6 linked regions of the Homo sapiens genome follow. The protein of the gene in region 1 purifies or fractionates together with the protein of each later gene. This does not show direct contact. Each region holds a gene or a part of one and is shown on either strand. Other genes may lie near its edges. The genes, in order: TH, ZBTB34, MAP3K7, TAB1, MTFR2 and KDM3B.

The links.
Region 2: the proteins of TH (region 1) and ZBTB34 purify together in Homo sapiens (affinity purification with mass spectrometry; 2 studies listed by BioGRID and IntAct, with this or other methods). This does not show direct contact.
Region 3: the proteins of TH (region 1) and MAP3K7 purify together in Homo sapiens (affinity purification with mass spectrometry; 2 studies listed by BioGRID and IntAct, with this or other methods). This does not show direct contact.
Region 4: the proteins of TH (region 1) and TAB1 purify together in Homo sapiens (affinity purification with mass spectrometry; one large-scale study listed by BioGRID and IntAct). This does not show direct contact.
Region 5: the proteins of TH (region 1) and MTFR2 purify together in Homo sapiens (affinity purification with mass spectrometry; 2 studies listed by BioGRID and IntAct, with this or other methods). This does not show direct contact.
Region 6: the proteins of TH (region 1) and KDM3B purify together in Homo sapiens (affinity purification with mass spectrometry; 2 studies listed by BioGRID and IntAct, with this or other methods). This does not show direct contact.

Annotation. Positions count from the first base shown.
Region 1 is NC_000011.10:2,162,976-2,166,124, reverse strand, and holds the end of TH (tyrosine 3-monooxygenase), read left to right. Parts: intron 1-66; coding exon 67-123; intron 124-361; coding exon 362-457; intron 458-759; coding exon 760-893; intron 894-1,732; coding exon 1,733-1,892; 3' UTR 1,893-2,196; downstream 2,197-3,149. UniProt on the Homo sapiens protein: Catalyzes the conversion of L-tyrosine to L-dihydroxyphenylalanine (L-Dopa), the rate-limiting step in the biosynthesis of catecholamines, dopamine, noradrenaline, and adrenaline. Uses tetrahydrobiopterin and molecular oxygen to convert tyrosine to L-Dopa.
Region 2 is NC_000009.12:126,877,184-126,881,138, forward strand, and holds part of ZBTB34 (zinc finger and BTB domain-containing protein 34), read left to right. Parts: intron 1-2,206; coding exon of another isoform or gene 2,207-2,216; coding exon 2,217-3,731; 3' UTR 3,732-3,955. UniProt on the Homo sapiens protein: May be a transcriptional repressor.
Region 3 is NC_000006.12:90,548,745-90,552,699, reverse strand, and holds part of MAP3K7 (mitogen-activated protein kinase kinase kinase 7), read left to right. Parts: intron 1-520; coding exon 521-651; intron 652-2,150; coding exon 2,151-2,232; intron 2,233-3,955. UniProt on the Homo sapiens protein: Serine/threonine kinase which acts as an essential component of the MAP kinase signal transduction pathway. Plays an important role in the cascades of cellular responses evoked by changes in the environment.
Region 4 is NC_000022.11:39,419,980-39,423,934, reverse strand, and holds part of TAB1 (TGF-beta-activated kinase 1 and MAP3K7-binding protein 1), read right to left. Parts: intron 2,109-3,955; coding exon 1,964-2,108; intron 1-1,963. UniProt on the Homo sapiens protein: Key adapter protein that plays an essential role in JNK and NF-kappa-B activation and proinflammatory cytokines production in response to stimulation with TLRs and cytokines.
Region 5 is NC_000006.12:136,233,270-136,237,224, forward strand, and holds part of MTFR2 (mitochondrial fission regulator 2), read right to left. Parts: intron 231-3,955; coding exon 56-230; intron 1-55. UniProt on the Homo sapiens protein: May play a role in mitochondrial aerobic respiration essentially in the testis. Can also promote mitochondrial fission.
Region 6 is NC_000005.10:138,418,607-138,422,561, reverse strand, and holds part of KDM3B (lysine-specific demethylase 3B), read right to left. Parts: intron 3,610-3,955; coding exon 3,330-3,609; intron 1,857-3,329; coding exon 1,600-1,856; intron 1-1,599. UniProt on the Homo sapiens protein: Histone demethylase that specifically demethylates 'Lys-9' of histone H3, thereby playing a central role in histone code. Demethylation of Lys residue generates formaldehyde and succinate. May have tumor suppressor activity.

The sequences.
Region 1 (3,149 bases):
GGTGCCCCCACCTCGAGCATGACCCAGGGCTGCCTCTCCCCATCCTTCATCCTCCCTGCTCCACAGGACATTGGCCTGGCGTCCCTGGGGGCCTCGGATGAGGAAATTGAGAAGCTGTCCACGGTGGGTTGACCCCTCCCTGCAGGGCCTGGGGTGTGGGTTTGGGGGTCTGAATCCAGGCCTCACCCTCTTGCCGTCCAGGCTGAGGCCTCTCCTTCCACCCACGAATTGTGACCCTCACCCTGGCCTGCCTGCATCCTGGCCTGGCCTCCCTGGGGGTGGTATCCTGGTCACGGGTGACCAGGGGCTGCCCGGTGGGCGGCAGCTGTCTCTGGGCTGATGCTGCCCGGCTTCCCCGCAGCTGTACTGGTTCACGGTGGAGTTCGGGCTGTGTAAGCAGAACGGGGAGGTGAAGGCCTATGGTGCCGGGCTGCTGTCCTCCTACGGGGAGCTCCTGGTGAGAGTCTCTCCTTGCTGCAGCCCCCAGCAGAGGGGCAGGGCTGGGGGACGGTGCAGGGAGGGGACAGGCTCCCAGTGGGAGGAAACTGAGGCCTGGACCTCCAGGACTCAGGCTCTGTTTGGGAGAAGGCTTGTCTCTGCCCAGTCCTCACCCCACATTATCCCAGGCCTCCGAAGGCCCGGCGGGGGAGATGGGGGTGACTCTACCCAAGGAACCCACCCAGCGTCAGGCCACGGTGCCCCAGTTCCCTCGGGGACCTGGGTGCAGTGGAGTCAGTGATGCCATTGGCCTCCTGCCAGCACTGCCTGTCTGAGGAGCCTGAGATTCGGGCCTTCGACCCTGAGGCTGCGGCCGTGCAGCCCTACCAAGACCAGACGTACCAGTCAGTCTACTTCGTGTCTGAGAGCTTCAGTGACGCCAAGGACAAGCTCAGGTGGGCTAGGCTGCTAGGGCAAGCCCCCCATGGTGCCCCCAAACTGGGCCAGCCAGGCCTTCCTTCTGGCCTTGAGCAGGGCTGGACCTGTGAGCCCAGGTCACAGATGAGAAAACCGACCCCTGGTTGCAGCAGCCCCCACACAGCAGGGACACCATCCGTGAGAAGGACCCCAGCGTCTGGGGAGGGGCAGACCTACAGGACTGGGGGCTGCTGGGTGGCCGGGTCAAGGCCAGTCTTGGAGGTGCTGACAGAGCCTGAGCTTTGTGAGGACGTCCTGTGGAACCTGTCCCGGCCCCCTGCCCTGGGATGGGGAGAAGTCAGGGGGATAGACAGAGTCAAGGTGGGGGACAGGGCGGGAGTGGGGTCCCCAGGGCTGGGGGCCTTTGGTGCAGTGACCAGAGTGTCAGGAGAGGGGAGCAAAGCCCTCTAGCCTCATCCTCATAAAAGGTCTCATCATTTTCCCTCCAGCCTCTTATGCACTGGGGAAACTGAGGCCAGGGGCTATGTGTCCAGCGGACAGGGGTGCTGAATTCCACCCACAGGCTTAGGGATATGGTCAAGGAAAGCTTCCTGGAGGAGGCCCAGTGGAGGTTCAGGGAGGGATGGGGTGCCCGGCAGTCTCTAGTGGAAAAGGCGCCTAGCCTATCTCCCCCATGAACCCCCTCACCCAGCCCTGGAAGAGGCCTCAGTGTCCCGCCTGTGACCAGTTGGCTCAGAAAAGCCCTGGGAGCTCTGAGCCACTGTGAAGGTGGAAACGCGGCCCCTGGCCTCCCCTCTCCTGGAGGCTGCAGACTCTGCCCGCCAGTTGACGAGGGCTCTGCCGCTCTCCTCCCCAGGAGCTATGCCTCACGCATCCAGCGCCCCTTCTCCGTGAAGTTCGACCCGTACACGCTGGCCATCGACGTGCTGGACAGCCCCCAGGCCGTGCGGCGCTCCCTGGAGGGTGTCCAGGATGAGCTGGACACCCTTGCCCATGCGCTGAGTGCCATTGGCTAGGTGCACGGCGTCCCTGAGGGCCCTTCCCAACCTCCCCTGGTCCTGCACTGTCCCGGAGCTCAGGCCCTGGTGAGGGGCTGGGTCCCGGGTGCCCCCCATGCCCTCCCTGCTGCCAGGCTCCCACTGCCCCTGCACCTGCTTCTCAGCGCAACAGCTGTGTGTGCCCGTGGTGAGGTTGTGCTGCCTGTGGTGAGGTCCTGTCCTGGCTCCCAGGGTCCTGGGGGCTGCTGCACTGCCCTCCGCCCTTCCCTGACACTGTCTGCTGCCCCAATCACCGTCACAATAAAAGAAACTGTGGTCTCTACACCTGCCTGGCCCCACATCTGTGCCACAGAGACAGACCCTGGGATCCTCAGACTCCCACACCCCCACCCCAGCCTCACTCAGAGGTTTCGCCCTGGCCTCCTTCCTCCTCTGGGAGATGGCTGGCCGCCCTGGCCAGGCAGCTGGCCCCTCCGGGCCTGGTTTCCCCGCTCACCCTGAGGCCCCGCCCAGCTCTGAGCCCCAAGCAGCTCCAGAGGCTCGGGCACCCTGGCCGAGCTGCCCCATCTCCGTGGGGTGCCCTCCCAAGGTGGGGAGCCACGTGACAGTGGGAGGGCCTCTCTCAGGCCTGGCAGGGAGCAGGGGTCACAAACTGTGCTGGCTGGGGGTGGTCTCAGAGGTGGGCCTGCAGGCCTAACCCTCCCTGCTGACAGGGCTCCCAGCCCTTGAGAGAAACAGGGATGGAGGAACAGCTGCCCTGATGCCCTCACCCACCCGGAGCAGGCCCTGCGAACCAAGGGGAACCTCAGTGTGGCCCCCAGCATGTGTGCTGATGGGGAGGGTCTGGCTGAGCTGGTGCCCAGGCAGATGGTCTGGGCCTGTCTCCCCAGCGAGGCAGGATGGGGGCTGGATTTCAGACTCTGTAAGATGCCCCTGGCTTACTCGAGGGGCCTGGACATTGCCCTCCAGAGAGAGCACCCAACACCCTCCAGGCTTGACCGGCCAGGGTGTCCCCTTCCTACCTTGGAGAGAGCAGCCCCAGGGCATCCTGCAGGGGGTGCTGGGACACCAGCTGGCCTTCAAGGTCTCTGCCTCCCTCCAGCCACCCCACTACACGCTGCTGGGATCCTGGATCTCAGCTCCCCGGCCGACAACACTGGCAAACTCCTACTCATCCACGAAGGCCCTCCTGGGCATGGTGGTCCTTCCCAGCCTGGCAGTCTGTTCCTCACACACCTTGTTAGTGCCCAGCCCCTGAGGTTGCAGCTGGGGGTG
Region 2 (3,955 bases), on another chromosome or scaffold:
TTTCGAAACTCCCAACATTTCATTTTGAAAAACCTCAAACAGAAAAGGTGAGAAAATTTCACAATAAGTGCCCAGATATCCACCATGTAGACTCTACAATTGTTAACATTTTACTGTGTTTGCTTTATCACATATCTGTCCATCTCTTTTTTGGAGATACATTCTCAAGTTGAAGACATGAGTAAACTTCACTCCTAAACCCAGATTTTACGTGTTTTCTCATTGTCTAAGTAGTTTTATTCCATTTAGATTTTTTTCTGATCTAATACTTAGGAGGTGTTTACATTTCTGTTGGTCAGGTTTTAAAATATAATTGTTAGATCTGGTTTTGTTATGTTTCTGTCAGAGGATGGAGCCGGGGCTATATATACTTAAGTAGTTCTGAGCAGTCTGGCGCTGCAGATTTTAGGCCACAGGAAGGAAACCTGTTGTAGGTGTGCCGCAGCTGTGAGCGCTAGTAGAAGGTGATTCCTTTTGATGTGTCCATCACCCTTTCACTCTTGTTGTCTAAAATAACTACTGTTTAAAAACACTGTCTTGGCAGAGCGCGGTGGCTCACGCCTGTTATCTCAGCACTTTGGGAGGCCGTGGCAGGCAGATCACTTGAGGTCAGGAGTTCGAGACCAGCCTGGCTAACATGGTGAAACCCCATCTCTACTGAAAATACAAAAACTAGCTGGGTGTGGTGGTGCACGCCTGTAGTCCAGCTACTCAGGAGGCTGAGGCAGGAGGATCACTTGAACCCAGGAGGCAGATGTTGCAGTGAGCCAAGATCATGCCATTGCACTCCGGACGACAGAGCGAGACTCCATCTGTAAAAATAAAATAAAAATAAATAAAATAAAATATTGTCTAAAATAACTCTTCACTGGTCGGGTGTGGCAGCTCACACTTGCAATCCTAGCACTTTGGGAAGCTGAGGTGGGAGGATCACGAGCTCAGGAGTTCAAGACCAGCCTGGGCAACATAATGAGACCTCATCTCTAATAAAAAATAGTAATAATAGGCCGGTGTGGTGACTCTTGCCTGTAATCCCAGGACTTTGGGAGGCCGAGGGGAGCAGATCACCTGAGGTCAGGAGTTCGAGACCAGCCTGGACAACATGGTGAAATCCCGTCTCTTCTAAAAATACAAAAATTAACTGGGCATGGTAGCGCATGCCTGTAATCCCAGCTATTCAGGAGGCTGAGGCATGAGAATTGCTTGAACCTAGGAGGCGGAGGTTTCAGTGAGCCGAGATCACGCCACTGCACTCCAGCCTGTGCAACAGAGCAAGATTCTGTCTCAAAAAAAAAAAAAAGTAATAATAACTCTTCACTGAAGGAGACTGAGCATGGTAAGTCTCAGCCAAAGCAACCCAACCCAAAAGAGATATAAAGGTGTACAGAGCTGAAGGGCAAACACACAAATCAAGACAATAATACTGAAAAGGGTTTAGCTCCATTTATTGTATCCAGTGTGCTACAGAGTTGAAAAATACCAATCAGAAATACACAAGTAAGGTAGAACATTTTTAGATGAATTTAGTTTTGTTTTTGTTTTGTTTTTTTTTTTTTTTTAGAAGGAGTCTCACTCTGTCCGCTAGGCTGGGATGCAGTGGTGTGCTCTCGGCTCACTGCAACCTCTGCCTTCTGAGGTCAAGCGATTCCCCTGCTGCAGCCTCCCAAGTAGCTGGAATTACAGGTGCACAACACCACACCAGGCTAATTTTTGTATTTTTAGTACAGATGGGGTTTTACCATGTTGGCCAGGTTGGTTTCAAACTCCTGACCTCAAGTGATCCGCCTCCCTCAGCCTCCCAAAGTGCTGGGATTATAGGTGTAAGCCACTGCGCCTGGCCTGAATTTAGTTATTTTTCACAAAGTACTTCAAACCCTCAAAAGTACTTGAAATGGGGAAATATTTTTCCTAAAAGGAGACCAATTTCTCAGTCAGAGCCAAAATAGTCCTACTATGTGTAAAATATTTTACTTTTGATCAAGATGAATATTAGGCAATTATGACATTAGGCTAATTGATCATTAGTTTATTTGGCTTTAGGTGAATTAACCAAAACATGAAAGACTAAAACAAGGGGAAGAATGCTTCAGGTAGATTTTAGGAGGTATGATAGCCACAATGGTATTGTTGTTGTAAGCTTGTGTTTATGCCACTTGTACTTAGTGAGGAGTCATTGGTGAATGATGCAAACTCTCTCTCTCCGCAGAGTACGCTTCATGTCAGTAGAAATGGACAGCAGCAGTTTTATTCAGTTTGATGTGCCCGAGTACAGCAGCACCGTTCTGAGCCAGCTAAACGAACTCCGCCTGCAGGGGAAACTATGTGACATCATTGTACACATTCAGGGTCAGCCATTCCGAGCCCACAAAGCAGTCCTTGCTGCCAGCTCCCCATATTTCCGGGACCATTCAGCGTTAAGTACCATGAGTGGCTTGTCAATATCAGTGATTAAAAATCCCAATGTGTTTGAGCAGTTGCTTTCTTTTTGTTACACTGGAAGAATGTCCTTGCAGCTGAAGGATGTTGTCAGTTTTCTGACTGCAGCCAGCTTTCTTCAGATGCAGTGTGTCATTGACAAGTGCACGCAGATCCTAGAGAGCATCCATTCCAAAATCAGCGTTGGAGATGTTGACTCTGTTACCGTCGGTGCTGAAGAGAATCCCGAGAGTCGAAACGGAGTGAAAGACAGCAGCTTCTTTGCCAACCCAGTGGAGATCTCTCCTCCATATTGCTCTCAGGGACGGCAGCCCACCGCAAGCAGTGACCTCCGGATGGAGACGACCCCCAGCAAAGCTTTGCGCAGCCGCTTACAGGAGGAGGGGCACTCAGACCGCGGGAGCAGTGGGAGCGTTTCTGAATATGAGATTCAGATAGAGGGAGACCATGAGCAAGGAGACCTATTGGTGAGGGAGAGCCAGATCACCGAGGTGAAAGTGAAGATGGAGAAGTCCGACCGGCCCAGCTGTTCCGACAGCTCCTCCCTGGGTGACGATGGGTACCACACCGAGATGGTTGATGGGGAACAAGTTGTGGCAGTGAATGTGGGCTCCTATGGTTCTGTGCTCCAGCACGCATACTCCTATTCCCAAGCAGCCTCACAGCCAACCAATGTATCAGAAGCTTTTGGAAGTTTGAGTAATTCCAGCCCATCCAGGTCCATGCTGAGCTGTTTCCGAGGAGGGCGTGCCCGCCAGAAGCGGGCTTTGTCTGTCCACCTGCACAGTGACCTGCAGGGCCTGGTGCAGGGCTCTGACAGTGAAGCCATGATGAACAACCCCGGGTATGAGAGCAGTCCCCGGGAGAGGAGTGCGAGAGGGCATTGGTACCCGTACAATGAGAGGTTGATCTGTATTTACTGTGGAAAGTCCTTCAACCAGAAAGGAAGCCTTGATAGGCACATGCGACTCCATATGGGAATCACCCCCTTTGTGTGCAAGTTCTGTGGGAAGAAGTACACACGGAAGGACCAACTGGAGTACCACATCCGGGGCCATACAGATGATAAACCATTCCGCTGTGAGATCTGCGGGAAGTGCTTTCCATTCCAAGGTACCCTCAACCAGCACTTGCGGAAAAACCACCCAGGCGTTGCTGAAGTCAGGAGTCGCATTGAGTCCCCCGAGAGAACAGATGTGTACGTGGAACAGAAACTAGAAAATGACGCATCGGCCTCAGAGATGGGCCTAGATTCCCGGATGGAAATTCACACAGTGTCTGATGCTCCCGATTAAGATGGTAAAGAAGTGCACCCAAACAAAGCACATTAATCAATGCATATTTGTGATTTGCTTTGTTGTAATCTTTGGTTTTCCCAACCATCTGGAAATCTCTTGGTCTCTTGGCAGTTTTTCTAAAGTTTCTGGATGGAACACTTCGTTGTGTTTATCCTTTCCCCTGCCCTCCCTCCCCGAAGGAGCTCAAAGCATGAAGGGCAACGCATCCAGGGAAAACACAG
Region 3 (3,955 bases), on another chromosome or scaffold:
ATAGCTTTTCATGAAGGAAAATTACTTACCTTCTTAATTTTAGCGCCACTCTTAGTTATTTCATTTCTATGCCTTGTTTATAATCATGTGACTAATGGCCATTTTTTACATTATTCCACAAGTCTAAAAACAAATGTCTGCCTAATTATTTAGGTCATTCATAGATTTATCAAACAGTACCATCATCTGAGTAATCTTAGCTGTTTTTACCAGTTTCCTATACTGCCTTTAATATTACTACCATTAGTATCATTGTGGAGACTGTTCAGCATTGACCAGGACAGCTTGCTTGCTTGCTTTCTATCAGTTGTCAGTAAATAATTGAACGTCCGTGAAGTAAAGAGTAAAAGAACTAACTTGTTAATTGATAAAATTACAAAGCACTTTTATTACTCCAAATTACAGATCTTAAACTACAAGATCTATAAAATAAATACCACTTTGGAAATACGTACAAAGAGTTTGCATCATTCTTTGGGTAAATACATTCTTCCCCCCTTCCTCTCATTTTCAATTGTAGGTACTCGACCACCACTGATAAAAAATTTACCTAAGCCCATTGAGAGCCTGATGACTCGTTGTTGGTCTAAAGATCCTTCCCAGCGCCCTTCAATGGAGGAAATTGTGAAAATAATGACTCACTTGATGCGGGTATAATCCTTCTTTTGAGGGGCTTTGGATTTAGGGGAATTTAATATGTGCTGAGTTTTAATGGAATTTTAAAAGGGATGTTATTACTATATTCTGCTTTATATATTGCTATGTTTTCTAAGTGAGAATGGGCATTTATTACTCATAGTCAGAAGAGGAAACATTTCGAGAGGGAAAATCTAGTTCTTTATCACTGGAAAGATGGCTAGACTAGGTTTCTAGACTTGCTTTTTTCTTTTTGCTTACATTAGTGGACAAGTATGTTTGTCTCTGGGCCTGTTGCCTCATTTGTAATGTGGGAGAAACTGAAATAGATAGTCTCTAAAGCCATCACAGGACTTGGATATATTAATATTATGACTTCAATACATGATAAACTAAATTTTACATTTTTCTGATACCAATTTTCATCAAGCATTTAGTCATTTATGCAAGGCAATAGGTTGCATTCTCAGACACATTTATTTGAGTGACTTTTACTATTTGGCCTATTTTCAGGTTTTTATATCCCAGTAAAAAGTTAAACTTTCTTCTATTTAGAAGAACCCTTTTAAATGATTATCAAATTTTCCTAGTCTGTGAATCAAGCGCCTTTAGAATTATTTGGAATATTTTACGCCTCTGGTTTTTGGTACATTAACAAAAACTGTGAAGTGGTATCTTGGCTTTAAAAAGTTCAAATATCTATGAAAGTGCCTGAATTTTGAAACAGTTTGTTCAGTAGAAGAATCTTACAATCTCCTTAAATATAGACTAAGTAATTTCCTAAATGGTAAAACGTTGTTTATTCAATCTATTGAAAATTTCTTACGCAAAGCAGCTTGAACTAATCTACTAAAAGTTTACCATCGTATTTGGATACCAGTCATATATAGAAGCCTAGGCCTTAAAGGTGTGTGCATAAGAAAACAACTTAGTCTCTGTAGTCAGATTACTTAAAACTTTAGGATATATAAGTTATTGCAGTTGTAATTTTGCTTCTCTGTTCCTTGTCTAATTTGAGGAGAATACGTTTCCTTTTTTTCTCTAAATTCTAACATTTTTGTCCAGCAGATACTTTGAGTATTATGCCTCCAGTTTGTAGAAAGACATTCATAATCTATCCTCTTAATATTTAAAATGTTCTAACAATTATTCTATGGTATACTAGTCTCAGTCTTCAGACTAACAGTCACTGGAAGTTTACATCACTACTGTAAGAACATGAGTATGTTTTACATAATTATGAGAAATGATACTATTTTATTTCATATGTTTCTCTAGAGAAATATTTGCTGTTTTCTTCAAGACTATCTAGACTCCAATGTAAGCTAGATTCTTAGGTAGGTGCATGGCATTGATCAAAGTTGAAATCCAAGAGTACATTATTGTAATCTTTGTAAAATAAAAAACTTAGGCACCTACAAATTTAGTATATAACTTAGGGAAAATAAAACATTAATCAGGATTTAATTTGTATTAAGGAAATTTTAAGCTGTGGTTTACTTTTTTATATATAGTACTTTCCAGGAGCAGATGAGCCATTACAGTATCCTTGTCAGTATTCAGATGAAGGACAGAGCAACTCTGCCACCAGTACAGGTAAATGGATAGATTGGAAGAGTATTGACTTGATTTTTCTTTCATCTCTATTCCCATGAAATTATAATCAAGAAGTAATGAATAATGTCCCCATTTGCATTTTAATTCCTTCATTTCATATGATTGACTGCAATTTGAGTTTACAGGTGCGTCATTCTTCATGTAGGTACCCTGATTAAAGAGTTATTGAAGACCTGCTTCCAAGTCTTAGAATTCCTACATAATTATGAATAAAAAGATGGCATATTGTATTACAGTGAATGTCATTCTTAACTTGAAAAATCACTTTTACATGCATACTACTAGATCAAGTAGTATTAGAAATTATTGTAAATGTATTTAAACATTTCTTCATCACGAACACCCTAGTTTTTGTTCTCTTCTACAGAGGCTCTGATTTAAGAAGCTATGTTAAAAGTTCCTTAGTTTTCCGAAATGTGAAGTAGTAGTGGGACATGTAATTTGTGGTCATCAAAAAGATAGTAGAAATAATACTGTAACTTAGAAATATTGTACTTCTCAAAATATAGTGGCATTATAAGCATTTCATTATTAATTGAAACTTAAAGATATGTGTGTGTCTATATGCACATGTATTTACCCTGCATTTATTGAAAAATACTTTTACTGATCTATTTCTCCCACCTCAAGAATAGTTTTATTTATTTTAAGATGGTTACTGCTTGGCTAGTTATTCTCAAATTCCAGTTTTACTGAAAATATTTTGAGTTGCTCTGAATTCTAAAATGTACTTCTCTAAAATTCTATCATTTGTGTCTCCCACGTCCTCTAAACTCTCTCTTCATTTCCTTACTGTGACCTTGAATTTTTTGAGCCTCCCACCTTTTCACTGGTCCTCAGTCCTCTTAGGTCCTTTTTTCTTTCTCCCTCCACTTAATTCCAATCAACTATTATAATTCTTTTGGGAATAATTTTCATCTTTCTAGCCTCTCTCTCAAGCTTGCTTGGCTAAACCACAAGCCTAATGAAAGCTGACACTCGGCTTACTCCTTGCCTGTACCAATGCAGCTGAGTGTGGCTGGAGATAGCACAGGTTTACTATCCTCACGTGCATGTTTAGTGCTATTGGACAGTTGTACTGTATTGTAGTTCATCTCTTTCCTCCTATATGTCTTAATTTTATACTGTAGCCTCTCCTCAGACTTCAAACACCTCCTCGCCACTCCTCACTCTCAGCTGATCTTGTTTGCTCTTTCTCTGAGAAAATTGGAGTAATCGGAAGACAGCTTCCACAACATCTGTGCCCATCTACTCTGCTTTCTTCTGTTACTCTGGCTAAACTATCCATACTTCTGGCCAAAGGTGTACCTTTCTGCCTGTGCATTATATCCCATCTGCTCCTCTGAGCAATTCTCCCCTGTCTCTTGCATCATCAGTTTTAGCTTTCTACTGGATCATTCCTAAAACATACGTAGTCTGTATTTGCATTCACTAGCTTCTCTTTTCCCCTTCTTTCTTGAGCTGACTCCATTCAGACGTATTATGCCAGTACTTCAGAATTGTTCTTGTCAAGGTCACTAGTTATCTCTACATCACTACATTTAAGGAATCATTTTCATTTCTCATCTTGACTCTCAGTAGCACTTGACCTAATTCATTACTTTCTCCTTCTTACAGACAGCACTTTCTTCAGTTGGCCTCCGAGATACCATACTAGCCTAGATTCCATCTTACATCTCTGGCCGTCTGTTCTCAGTTTTCT
Region 4 (3,955 bases), on another chromosome or scaffold:
CAACGTACACTATAAAACACTATACATTAGTTACAATGTACACTATAAAACACTATACATTAGTTACAATGTACACTATAAAACACTATACATTAGTTACAATGTACACTATAAAACACTATACATTAGTTACAATGTACACTATAAAACACTATACATTACTTACAATGTACACTACTGGAATAACTGGTTTACTAAGATCTCAGAATTCACCACTACATAATTCATCCCTATAACAAAAAAATACTGGTACCTCAAAAGCTACTGAAATAAAAATTAATTTTCAAATTTTAAAGAAGACTTTTTCCTCATGATATTGATTGATTGATTGAGACAGAGTCTTGCTCTGTTGCTCAGGCTGGAGTGCAGTGGTGCGATCTTGGCTCACTGCAACCTCCACCTCCCGGGTTCAAGCGATTCTCCTGCCTCAGCCTCCTGAGTAGCTGGGATTACAGGTGCCTGCCACCACACCCGGCTAATTTTTGTATTTTTAGTAGAGACGGGGCTTCACCATGTTGGCCAGGCTGGTCTCGAACTCCTGACCTCAAGTGATCCGCCTGCCTCGGCTTCCCAAAGTCCTGGGATTACAAGCATGAGCCACTGTGCCCGGCCAATACATGATTTTTAATTAAAAAGGACAAAGCAGGCTGGGCACAGTGGCTCATGCCTACAATCCCAGCATCTTGGGAGGCCAAGGTAGGAGGATCACTTGAGACCAGGAGTTTGAGATTAACCTGGGCGATACAGTGAGACCCTGTCTCTACCAAAAAAACAAAACAAAGAAAACAACCAAAATTAGCCAGGTGTGGTGGCACACACCTATAGTTCCAGCTACTCAGGAGGCTAAGGCTGGAGGATCGGTTGAACCCAGAAGGTTGAGGGTGCAGTGACCCGTGATCACGCCACTGCACTCCAGTCTGGGTGACACAGCAAGTCTTAAAAAAAAAAAAAAAAAAGTCAAAGCAGAAAAGGTTATCTTCCTACAAGAATCACAGAAAGGAGGAGGAACACAAACTGAACTTATCTTAGCCAGTCAGCAATCCAAGGAGGTCAGGGAAAGACAGTTTTCCTTTGAGACCATCCCTAACGTGACTGTCTTGAAGTCACACTTTGGTGACTCCAAGGTATAAGAAAAATAAGCAACTCTTGGCTGAGGGCCTGTGTCTACCACGCCTAACCTCACTGCGATCTCACAAAGGCAGATGTTACCATCCTCACTGTAGAAATGAGAAGTGAACTGCCGGGCGCGGTGGCTCACGCCTGTAATCCCAGCACTTTGGGAGGCTGAGGTGGGTGGATCACAAGGTCAGGAGTTGGAGACCAGCCTGGTGAAACCCTGTCTCTACTAAAAATACAAAAATTAGCTGGGCGTGGTGGCAGACACCTGTAATCCCAGCTACTTGGGAGGCTGAGGCAGAGAACTGCTTGAACCCGGGAGGCGGAGATTGCAGTGAGCCGAGATCATGCCACTGTACTCTAGCCTGCGTGACAGAGGGAGACGCTGTCTCAAAAAAAAAAAAAAAAAAAAAAAAAAGAAATGAGAAGCAAACTATAAATTGTCTGCCACTCAGGGAGGGCAGTAAAGCCGTCAGGCCCTTGGCAGGAAGTGATGGGTGTGGGAAGGACTCTGCACATCTCTTTCTGTGCTCTCCTCCTGGCCCTGGCCCCTTCCTGGCCGTCTCAGAGTAATGCCGTGCCCATAGCAATTCACATCCATCTCCCCCTCTTCCCTTCAGACCTTGCTCAGGCCCTGAGGACTGGCACTGCTTCAAGCCTAAAATGAGTCAAGTTTTTGGGTGGGATGGGTGTTTTCAGAGCTCTGGGATTCTCCTTCCCCCAGCTTTGAACCCAGAGATGTCTGGTGACGGCCTCCGAGAATCACAGTGCTAGAAGGCAGGGTGAGCACATCACCATGCAGGCCAGCCACGCTCTCCGGCCATGGGCGTGGCTGGGCCCAACTCACCTGGTTGGCCTGCCCAGGCCCATGGGCTGCCTCTAGGGCCTTGTACAACCCCTCCGACATCAGCACCAAGAAGCCCGTCACCCCATCCAGCGGCTGTGCCCCATGGATTTCTGGCTCTGCGATGATTGGTTTGGACTTGGCAGCGCTATGGGGAGAGAGTGGAAGGAAGAGCTTTGCTTGGAACAGCCCGCAGGTGGATGCTGATTCTGCTGAGGGGAGGAATCTATGCCCAGAATGTAAAATAAAACACACAACCTGACAAGAGGAAAAGAAAAGAGAGAAAGAGAAGGTCAGAAAAATAGACCCATCGTCTTACAGCAGCTGCTAAAATAAAGCTTGGAAGGCCATAAAAACTGGCAGGCAGCTGAGGTCAGGATGGCAAAGGTTGAATGCCCGATTCTGGCCTGTTCCATACGTCCTGTTCACAGGGTCCGGTGGTGGCAGGGCAGGGTGTGGGACAGCAAGAGGGAGGGATTATCCCTGGGAGCCCAAGCCTCTTGCTATTATTTGGGCTTTTCCAAAACAGATGGCTGAGACCCCAGATACTCTCCATGTGTACAGGGATCCTTTAGTGACTGGGGTCAGAGTCATTACATGCCAACACATGTGTGTGCACATGGAGGTAAGTACATGAGGAGGTGCTGGCAACACCATCCAGAAGAGCGGAGTCTAAGAACTTCCTGAGGGTCCGTCAGCCAGGGCTGGGCCCTGGGAGCGGTTATTACACAGAATGACGCCATCCTAACTGCAGGTGAGCAGAATGAAGAGATGAGCACCTTTAATGATAGCAGTGAGGGGTGTGTAAACATATCTCCAAACTCATCAAGTTGTATGCATGAAATAGGCACAGCTTTGCATATGCCAATTACACCTTAGGGTTTAAAAAAAAAGAAAAGAAGGAGGAGCAGGACACACCAGCACCTGGGAGGGGCAGGACACACCAGCACCTGGGAGGGGCAGGACACACCAGCACCTGGGAGGGGCAGGACACACCAGCACCTGGGTGTTCCGAAAAGGATGCAGGCTCCTTGGCCCCCAGGACAAACACACACACACACACACACACACACACACACACACACACACACAGAGAGAGACACCCCAGCACCTGGGTGTTCCGAAAAGGATGCAGGCTCCTTGGCCCCCAGGACAAACACACACACACACACACACACACACACACACACACACACACAGAGACACCGTGTGTGTATATGTGCATGTGGCCAGATTTTGGAACAGGATACACAAGAAACTAGCAGCCTCTGGGGAGGCAGCGAGTCCTAGAGTGTGGTGTAGGAAGACTTCCTTTCCCTGTATAGACCCCAGCACTGTCTGAAGTGTTTTAAACTATGGATGTCCTTTCCAATAAAGGAAACAGGACCCCACAAATTAGGGACAAATATTCGACACTCAGTTGCCTAGATCGCGTGAGGGCAAGGAGTTCTAACATGCACTTTCTAGGCCATGAGGCCTCTGTTGATGGGAACTCTGGCTTTGGGAACAGCCTTGGCCATGACATTAAATGCCATGATTGGCATCAGGCAAGTGGACGCGCCTATCTCCCCAACCAACACTTCACATACAGGTTACCTGACGGTTAAGGACACATATTCCAAATTCAGGCTGCCTGTGTTCAAGCCCCATGACCAGGGTGGGCTGCCTGATGTCTCCATGCCTCAGTTTCCTCTTATGAAAATGCCTCTGGGGTGATGGCAGTGACTGCCTCAGGGGGCCTGAGTAGGGAATGCATAAAAGAAGGTACATCCAGAGCTCTGCACGGGCTTGGCCGTGTGATGATGACTGCCCATTCTGCTGCCATGAGCGCTGGGGTGATGTCCAGAGGAGGTGTCCTCAGAGGGAAATACACAATTCATCTCACACCTCTGCTGCAGCCATGGGCAGCACCGACCAACAGGCCTGGTCTGTCCATCCCATGCCAACTCTGGCTTCGCCTGCCTCCCTTGTGGCACTAGTTGCTGCCCTCAGCTT
Region 5 (3,955 bases), on another chromosome or scaffold:
TAAACAACACATCTGAGAAAAACTGAAAAATTAATTTTACATTAGTGTAGCTTACCCTTGAAGTTTCTGGACTAGAAAATGGGGAAGATTCCCAAGATCTATTCTCTTTCTCAAAAGAATCATCTTCTTGAAATGCAAATTTCTGTTTAAGTGCATGAGATATTAAAGAAACTGGATCCCAATGTGAATTCTGTCTTTTCCTCTTATGAATGGGTCTACCGCCAGGTGACCTATTTTTTAAAAAAAAAAATTGAATTTATTAAAACTTGGATGTAATTTTAGCTCCTTGTTGACAAACATGGCAGGAATACAAGCATATCTTACAATTTAATTAGTCTTCAAGAGATTGAAAATAATCTAATCTTCAAGAAATTTTCGCAATGAAATAAGGAAGGCACAATGAATGAAGAATCAGAAAACCAAGAACCCATGTGACTTGAGACTCTGCCATAACCTTGTTATGACCTGAGATTTGTCAGATGTCACTATGCTGAAGATCTTTATTATGGTAATTTTCTAATTTCCTAATGGGTAGGAAAATTCAAATAAATAAGAACTTTTAAAAGGACGAGAGTTCATGCCAAAAAAAAAAAAATTACGCAAATTGTTCATTTGTTTGGTTGTTCATTCATTTAATCTTCATTGAATGCCCACTACCACATCCGACTCCATTTTATGCTTTGGGAGTATTCTGCTCCCAATTCTTACAGCAAGATTATCATCAATATACAAGTAAGATCATTTGGCTGGTAATAAGAGCTGTGAATAAAACAAAACAGAGGCTGGGCACGGTAGCTCATGCCTATAATCCCAGCACTTTAGGAGGCCAAGGTGGGAGGACTGCCTGAGCCCAGGAGTTCGAGAGCAGCTTGGGTAACATAGCGAGACCCCATCTCTAGAAAAAATTTAAAAATTAGCCAGGCAACTACTTGGGAGGTTAAGGCAGGAGGATCACTTGAGCCAAGGAGGTCAAGCCTGCAGCAAGTCATGGCACCACTACACTCCAGCCTGGGTGACAGAGCAACACCCTGTCTCAAAAAAAAAAAAAAAAAACTAAATTAAAAAATAAAAAATAGGGAAATGTAATAGTGATTAGGGACAGAAGCACTTTAGATATGATCAGAAAAAAAGCCTCTTTAAGGAAGCAACATCCTCTTTAAGAAAATGACAAGGGGTCAGTTTTAGTGTAAACATCTGGGGCTGCATCAGGAAGGAGCTTGGCATGTGTGAGAAACGGAAAAAAGAAAGCAACTGCAGCTGGAGTGCAGTGGGCAAACATGGGGCATAGGAGAGGAGCTCAGCGAGAGAAGTGAGGGCTGGCTCCTGGAGGGGCCTACGGACACAGCAAGGGCTCTAGAACTGATTCAAGCACAACGGAAACCCACAGAAGAGTCTGAAGCAGGAGAATGGCCTGATCTGACTTCTGGTCACTATCTGCAGAATAAATAAGGAGGCAAGAATGAAAACAGATCACTGAGGAGGCTGCTGCGGAAGTCTAAGCTAGATAAGAATGGGCTTAGCCTGGGGAGTTGGCAGTGGAGGTCAAGAGGTCCACAGAATTGAGCTATGTGCTGATGGGAACGGTGGGAGATAGAATGGAAAATAAAGATGAAGGATGATTCCTAGATATTTGTTTTTGTTTTTTTGAGACGGAGTCTCGCTTTGTCACCAAGGCTGGAGTATAGTGGCTCACTGCAACCTCCGCCTCCCGGGCTCAAACAATTAATTCTCCTGCCTCAGCCTCCTAGTAGCTGGGATTACAGGTGTGCGCCATCATGTCAGGGTAATTTTTGTATTTTTAGTAGAGACTGGGTTTCACCATGTTGGCCAGGCTGGTCTCGAACTCCTGACCTCGAGTGATCTGCCCACCTCAGCCTCTCAAAGTGCTGTGTTTACTGGTGTGAGCCACCGCACCTGGCCTGATTCCTAGATCTTAAGCAACCGGGTGATCGTGTTGCCATTTGCTAATATGCAAAAGACGTGGGAAAGAACAGGTTTTCAAGGTGGCGGAAAAGAACAGGTAGGAAGGAAAAGTCCTGTTTTGGACCTGTGAAACGAGATACCTGTGAGACAGGCAAATAAAGATGTCAAGTAGGCATTTCAGTATGTGCATCTGGGCTCAAGAGGAGAGGTCAGGGCTAGAAAAATAAACGTTTGAGTCATAAGCATACAGCTGGTATTTAGAGTCATAGGACTAGGTGAGCTCACCAAAGGAAACAGCATGGACAGAGAAGAGAGGGGGCTGAGGTCTGAACCAGGTATTTCAACATTTAAAGACCAGGCCCAGGGGGAAGAGTTTAAGGAATAAGAAGGAATAGCTGATGAGGTCAGAGGAAACCTGGGGGTATGCTTTCCCAGAAACCAAGTAAAGAAAGTGCTCCAGGCTAGGCGCAGTGGCTCATGCCTGTAATCCCAGCACTTTGGGAGGCCAAGGTGGTCGGATCATGCGGTCAAGAGATCGAGACCATCCTGGCCAATACGGTGAAACCCTATCTCTACTAAAAATACAAAAATTAGCTGAGCATGGTGGCACATGCCTGTAGTCCCAGCTACTCGGGAGGCCGAGGCAGGAGAATCACTTGAATCCAGGAGGCAGAGGTTGCAGTGAGCCGAGATCACGCCACTGCACTCCAGCCTGGCAACAGAGCGAGACTCCGTCTCAAAAAAAAAAAGAAAGTGCTCCAAGGAGGTGGGGACCATAGGCTGTATCAAATGCTGCCAAGAGGTCAACTAAGACGAGCAATGCTAAGAGACCAGTGGATTTAGCCACATGGAGTCACTGGTGAAGCAGTTTTCAATGGAGTTTTCATGGGTAGAAGGCAGCAGCGATAGACAGAAACAAATTATAGACGACTTCAAGAATTCATATCAGAAAGGGGAGCAGAACAACAGAACAACGGCTGAGAGTACATGTGTTTTGAAGGTGGGAAGTACTCAGGTGTGAGGAGAAGGATGAAGTATAGAAGGAAGACTCAGTGATGCAGAAGGGCTCATTTTAAGTGAAATCCTTGTGAAGAGGAAAGAGAAGGGAAACCAGTAACCAAAGGAAGAGCCTGGCCATGAATGATGACACTTGGCTCCCAACAGCAAGATGGAAGGCAGAGAATCTGCACGGGGAATCTGTAGGTGTAAAGAGGTGAGAGAGCTCATCTGATTCCTCAGCAACGTACAAAACAAAGTTAGCTGTAGAGGCAACTCAGGAGAGAATAGGGGGACAGGAGGCAGAGGCTACTGGCCTTTTAGTTGTTTTTCCAGTGATGGTAACAGTCACAGAGTTGCCACTTGATACTAAGCCCGACAACACAAGTACAAGATCTAGTTGGGACCAAGCATGCACCTACAGCCATGAGATTCTTCTCAACAAGCTGCCTCATGCTCTTCCTGTGGTTACTGGTTTCCCTTCTCTTTCCTCTTCACAAGGATTTCACTTAAAATGAGCCCTTCTGCATCGTTGCAAGGATCAAACTCACAACCTCATTAAAAACAGAACTGACTTATCTGTCCCAGGACTATCATACAGAAAATATATCTATTTTCTCACCGAAAACCTCACTGAGGGATTTCCAAGTAAGCATGGCAAATCCCTTGTGAAATCCTACTAAAATGACAGTAAAGAAATGAAAAAGATCTATATATCCACAAGGACAAAGAGATTAGAAGGGGAGACAGGAGATAAGAATTGCAACCAGATGCCGGAAGCTGGAAAGCTGATGAAAGTGAGAGCATGGGGCGTGGGCGCCCTGCTGAACACAGGGCGTGTGCTAAATAAGACACTTCTCTCTTGCTCCTCTTTCCCCACTCAGCTCTCCAATGACCTGACTTGCACCCGCTGTGTAATCCCCATCCCTCCTGACCACAAGGGAGAATGAAGAACTTTCTAAGGAAAATCCTGTAGCCCAAAAGAAAAGACATACAGCTCTGGGGTGTGGCCAACAAAATGGTCCTCTCCCTAATC
Region 6 (3,955 bases), on another chromosome or scaffold:
TTCAGGCGATTCTCCTGCCTCAACCTCCCGAGTAGCTGGGATTATAAGCATGTGCCATCATGCCTGGCTAATTTTTGTAGTTTTTTAGAAAGAGTCAGGATTTTGCTACGTTGGTCAGGTTAGTCTCGAACTCCTGACCTCAAGTGATCTGTCCGCCTCAGCCTCCCAAAGTGCTGGGATTACAGGTGTGAGCCACTGTGCCCAGCCTCTTTTCTATCTTTTAGATATTGTACCTTATGAATTCATTCATTCAATAAATGCTTACTAAACATGACTGGATCAAACACCATGGCACTAGGGATATATTATAGAACAGTCAAAAATGCCTTTAGGAGAGGCAAGAAACAGAAAATCAAACATGTAATAGGTCAGATGGTAATGAGTGCTGTGAAAAAAACAAAGCAGGGAAAATCGGTATGTGCAGAACTGACAGTGTGATGGAATTTTAAAAAGGGTGATGTATGAAGAAAGGGTTACTGAAGGTTTAGGTGAGGGAGCTGATGATGAAGCAAGTGAGGTAGTTACATGGGAAAGAAATTCTAGGTGGAGGAAATAACAAGTGCAAAGGCCCTGAAGAGGGAGCATGCCAGGCCATGTTCAAAGAACAGCAAGAAGGTGGGTGTGGCTGGAACGGAGTGAACAGAACAGAGAGTGGTAGTTGAAGACAGGGAGGTGAGAGCAAGATGAACAGATAGGGCTATGGCCTCATAGTCCAGGTGCGTGACTCTACTCATCTGTAAGCACTACAAGGACTCTGCTCATCTTACGAGAGAAAAAGGAAGCCCTTGAAGGATTTCAGGCAGAGGTTAAGATATGATCTGACTTATATTTTATTATTTTTCTCCTTTTCTTTTATTTTTCTTTATTTCTTAATAAAAAGCCTCCCATGGGATGACATATTTTAAAAGAACCTCTCTAGCTACTGTGTTGAAAATACACTGTAGACTGTAAAGGGCAGAAACAAGGGGACCTGTAAGGAATTTATTGCAAAAACTTAGGCAAGATGTTGGCTCAGAACAGAGGAAGCAACAGAGCTGATGAAAAATGAGTGGATTCTGAATATAGTTTGAAGATCAAATTTGAAAGGATTTGCTAACAAATTAGATATGAAAGGTAAGACAGGCGAGTCCCAAATGATTCTAAGATTTCTGGTGCAAGCAATCACAAGGGCAGAGATGCCACCAACCAGTAGGGGAAAACTAAGGAGAAGCAAGCTTATGGTCAGAAGATCAGGAGTTCAGGCTTAGGCGCATTAAAGGTTTGAGACATCTATTAGATATCCAAGAGAATACAATACAAATGTACTGTCCAGGTTAAAAAAAAATTAATGCCTGCTATTATCAAGAAAAACAAGCAATCAATGTATTAACTTTTCTGCTGATGACCGAAACATTTCAAAATCTCAACTTTTACAGACTTCCTAACATGGTACAAAAGGTTCACTACTTAAAAAGATTCCCAAAACTTTAAAGAGAGACCTTGTCAGCTTGACAATGTAGAGAACACAAATCACCCATGTACCCTCTAACCCAATTATCTGATCTCTGATGGTTCTTTCATGGAAAAGCTGAAAAGGCTACAGTTGCAGAGGACACTTACTGCTGAGGATGTAGAGAAGACCGGGGGAAAGGGTATGCCTGTGTCCAAGGGGGTTTGAGGAAGTTTTCCCGGCCCGGAGTGAAGGAGGTCTCGAAGGCTAGACCCTTCGGTTTTGTTGTTGGAGGCAGTGGGACCCAGCAACAGACTGTTAAAAAGCTTTGGAGTCAGCGGAGAGACCTTTGCAGTGGAGTTGAACGAGTCCAGCCCAAAGGGTGAATGAGACTCTTTATTGAGCACCGACCTCAGGGACCCTGCTTCTGTAAGAACATAACCAGGAACAGCATTAGGTACAAAAAGGAATAATCAGCACACAACTGACTCCTAAAAATCAGTCACATGGGAAGGAGGAAAGATTCTCTCCTTTCCCTTGCACCCCCCAAACTGTGTATGGTTTGTTTGGGTCAAGCCTTACAAGCTATAATTATAGGAGGTCTCACAGCCAAGGAGAAACTCTCCTACTACTTCTTTACCAGATCTGAATTTCAAACTCCCTTTTGTTGTCATCCATCTTTCATCTCCCTCACTTCCTAAGACAGTGTTTCAAGTGTATCTTCAGGATACCTGTACTGAAGTCACTTGGAGTGCTTGTTAAAAATGGAGATCTTTACCCCCAGAGATTCTGATTTCATAGTTCTGGGCGGGACACAGGAATCTGCATTTTTAACCATTCCCCAGATGATTCTTGTGCCCAGTGAAAACTTCTGCTCTAAGTCTAGCTCTCAACCCTGGCTGCATAACAGAACCATCTCAGAAGCTTGTTAAAAGTCTTGTATATGGCTGGGAATGGTGGCTCACGCCTATAATCCCAGCACTTTGGGAGGCCGAGGCAGGTGTATCACTTGAGGTCGGGAGTTTGAGACCAGCCTGACCAACATGGAGAAACCTCGTCTCTATTAAAAATACAAAAAAATTAGCTGGGCGTGGTGGCACATGCCTGTAATCCCAGCTACTTGGGAGGCTGAGGCAGGAGAATCACTTGAACCTGGGAGACGGAGGTTGCAGTGAGCCAAGATCGCGCCACTGCACTCCAGCCGGAACTCCAGGCAACAAGAGCAAAACTCCGTCTCAAAACAAACAAACAAAAAAAACCCCTTGTATAAATTCTGACTAGAGATCCAGGGTAGGGCCCAGGCATCTGCCTTTTTAGAGAAGTTCCACTTCTAGAAAGAAGTTGAAAGGTAGTCCCTCATATATATGTGTGTGTGTGTGTGTGTGTGTGTGTGTGTGTGTGTGTATGTGTGTGTATATATATGTGTGTGTGTATATATATATGTATATATATATATATATATATTTTTTTTTTTTTTTTTGAGACAGAGTCTTGCTGTTACCCAGGCTGGAGTGCAGTGGCATGATCTTGGCTCACTGCAGGCTGTGCCCCCCAGGTTCATGCCATTCTCCTGCCTCAGCCTCCCAAGTAGCTGGGACTACAGGCACCCGCCACCTCGCCCAGCTAATTTTTTTGTATTTTTAGTAGAGACGGGGTTTCACCATGTTAGCCAGGATGGTCTTGATCTCCTGACCTCGCGATCTGCCCGCCTTGCCTCCCAAAGTGCTGGGATTACACGCGTGAGCCACCACGCCAGGCCCCGGCAGTCCCTCATGTGATTAGCCAGAGAAAGTAAGTAGCATGTTTCATAAATGTGGATGGTAATGTGTGAGTTCAAAGAATCCTGGAAAAAACTCATGATTTCTACCATAGGCAGAGCAGAGGTTTGTGTGCATCTCACCTTTTGTTTCTTCTTTAGCCTTCTGAGTTGCTAAATCTGCCAACCAGTGCAGGGCGGAGGAGGGTGGGGCCGTGTCAGGGCAAGGAGGCCTGATGGCTTTCAGTTCACTATTGCTATTTGATGCCGAACTGTCTGTTTTCAGAGGCTCTTCAGATCTGATGTCAGTGCTGTCGGCTTTGGGAACATGGTCCGGCTCTGGAGTTGTTACTGGTGCCGGTCCTCCTCCACCAGAGAAGGTAGTTTCGTTTCCAGAAGAGGCACTAGGGTTTATGCTAGGAAGCTAAAATGCAGAAGGCCAACATAATTAGAGTGCTGTGCTTGGGTAGAAAAAAATACAACTAGTAATGGCTTCACATACTAAATAGGTCTGGGAAGAATAATCTGTCATGTAAACTGGCATTTCATACATTATTTAATTCAACATATATTTATTGAGTCCTACAACATGCCAGAAACCAGGCTAGCTTCTGTGGAAAGATCAGTGAACAAGGCTTGAAGTTTGTAATCTAAAATAGTTAGCATGCCTGACACAATTTCTGCAATGGTGAATTGGTAATTTAAATGACCTCGTAGTGCTGTTCTTAGGATTACATAAAATAGCATATGCAAAGGGCTTAGCATAGTTC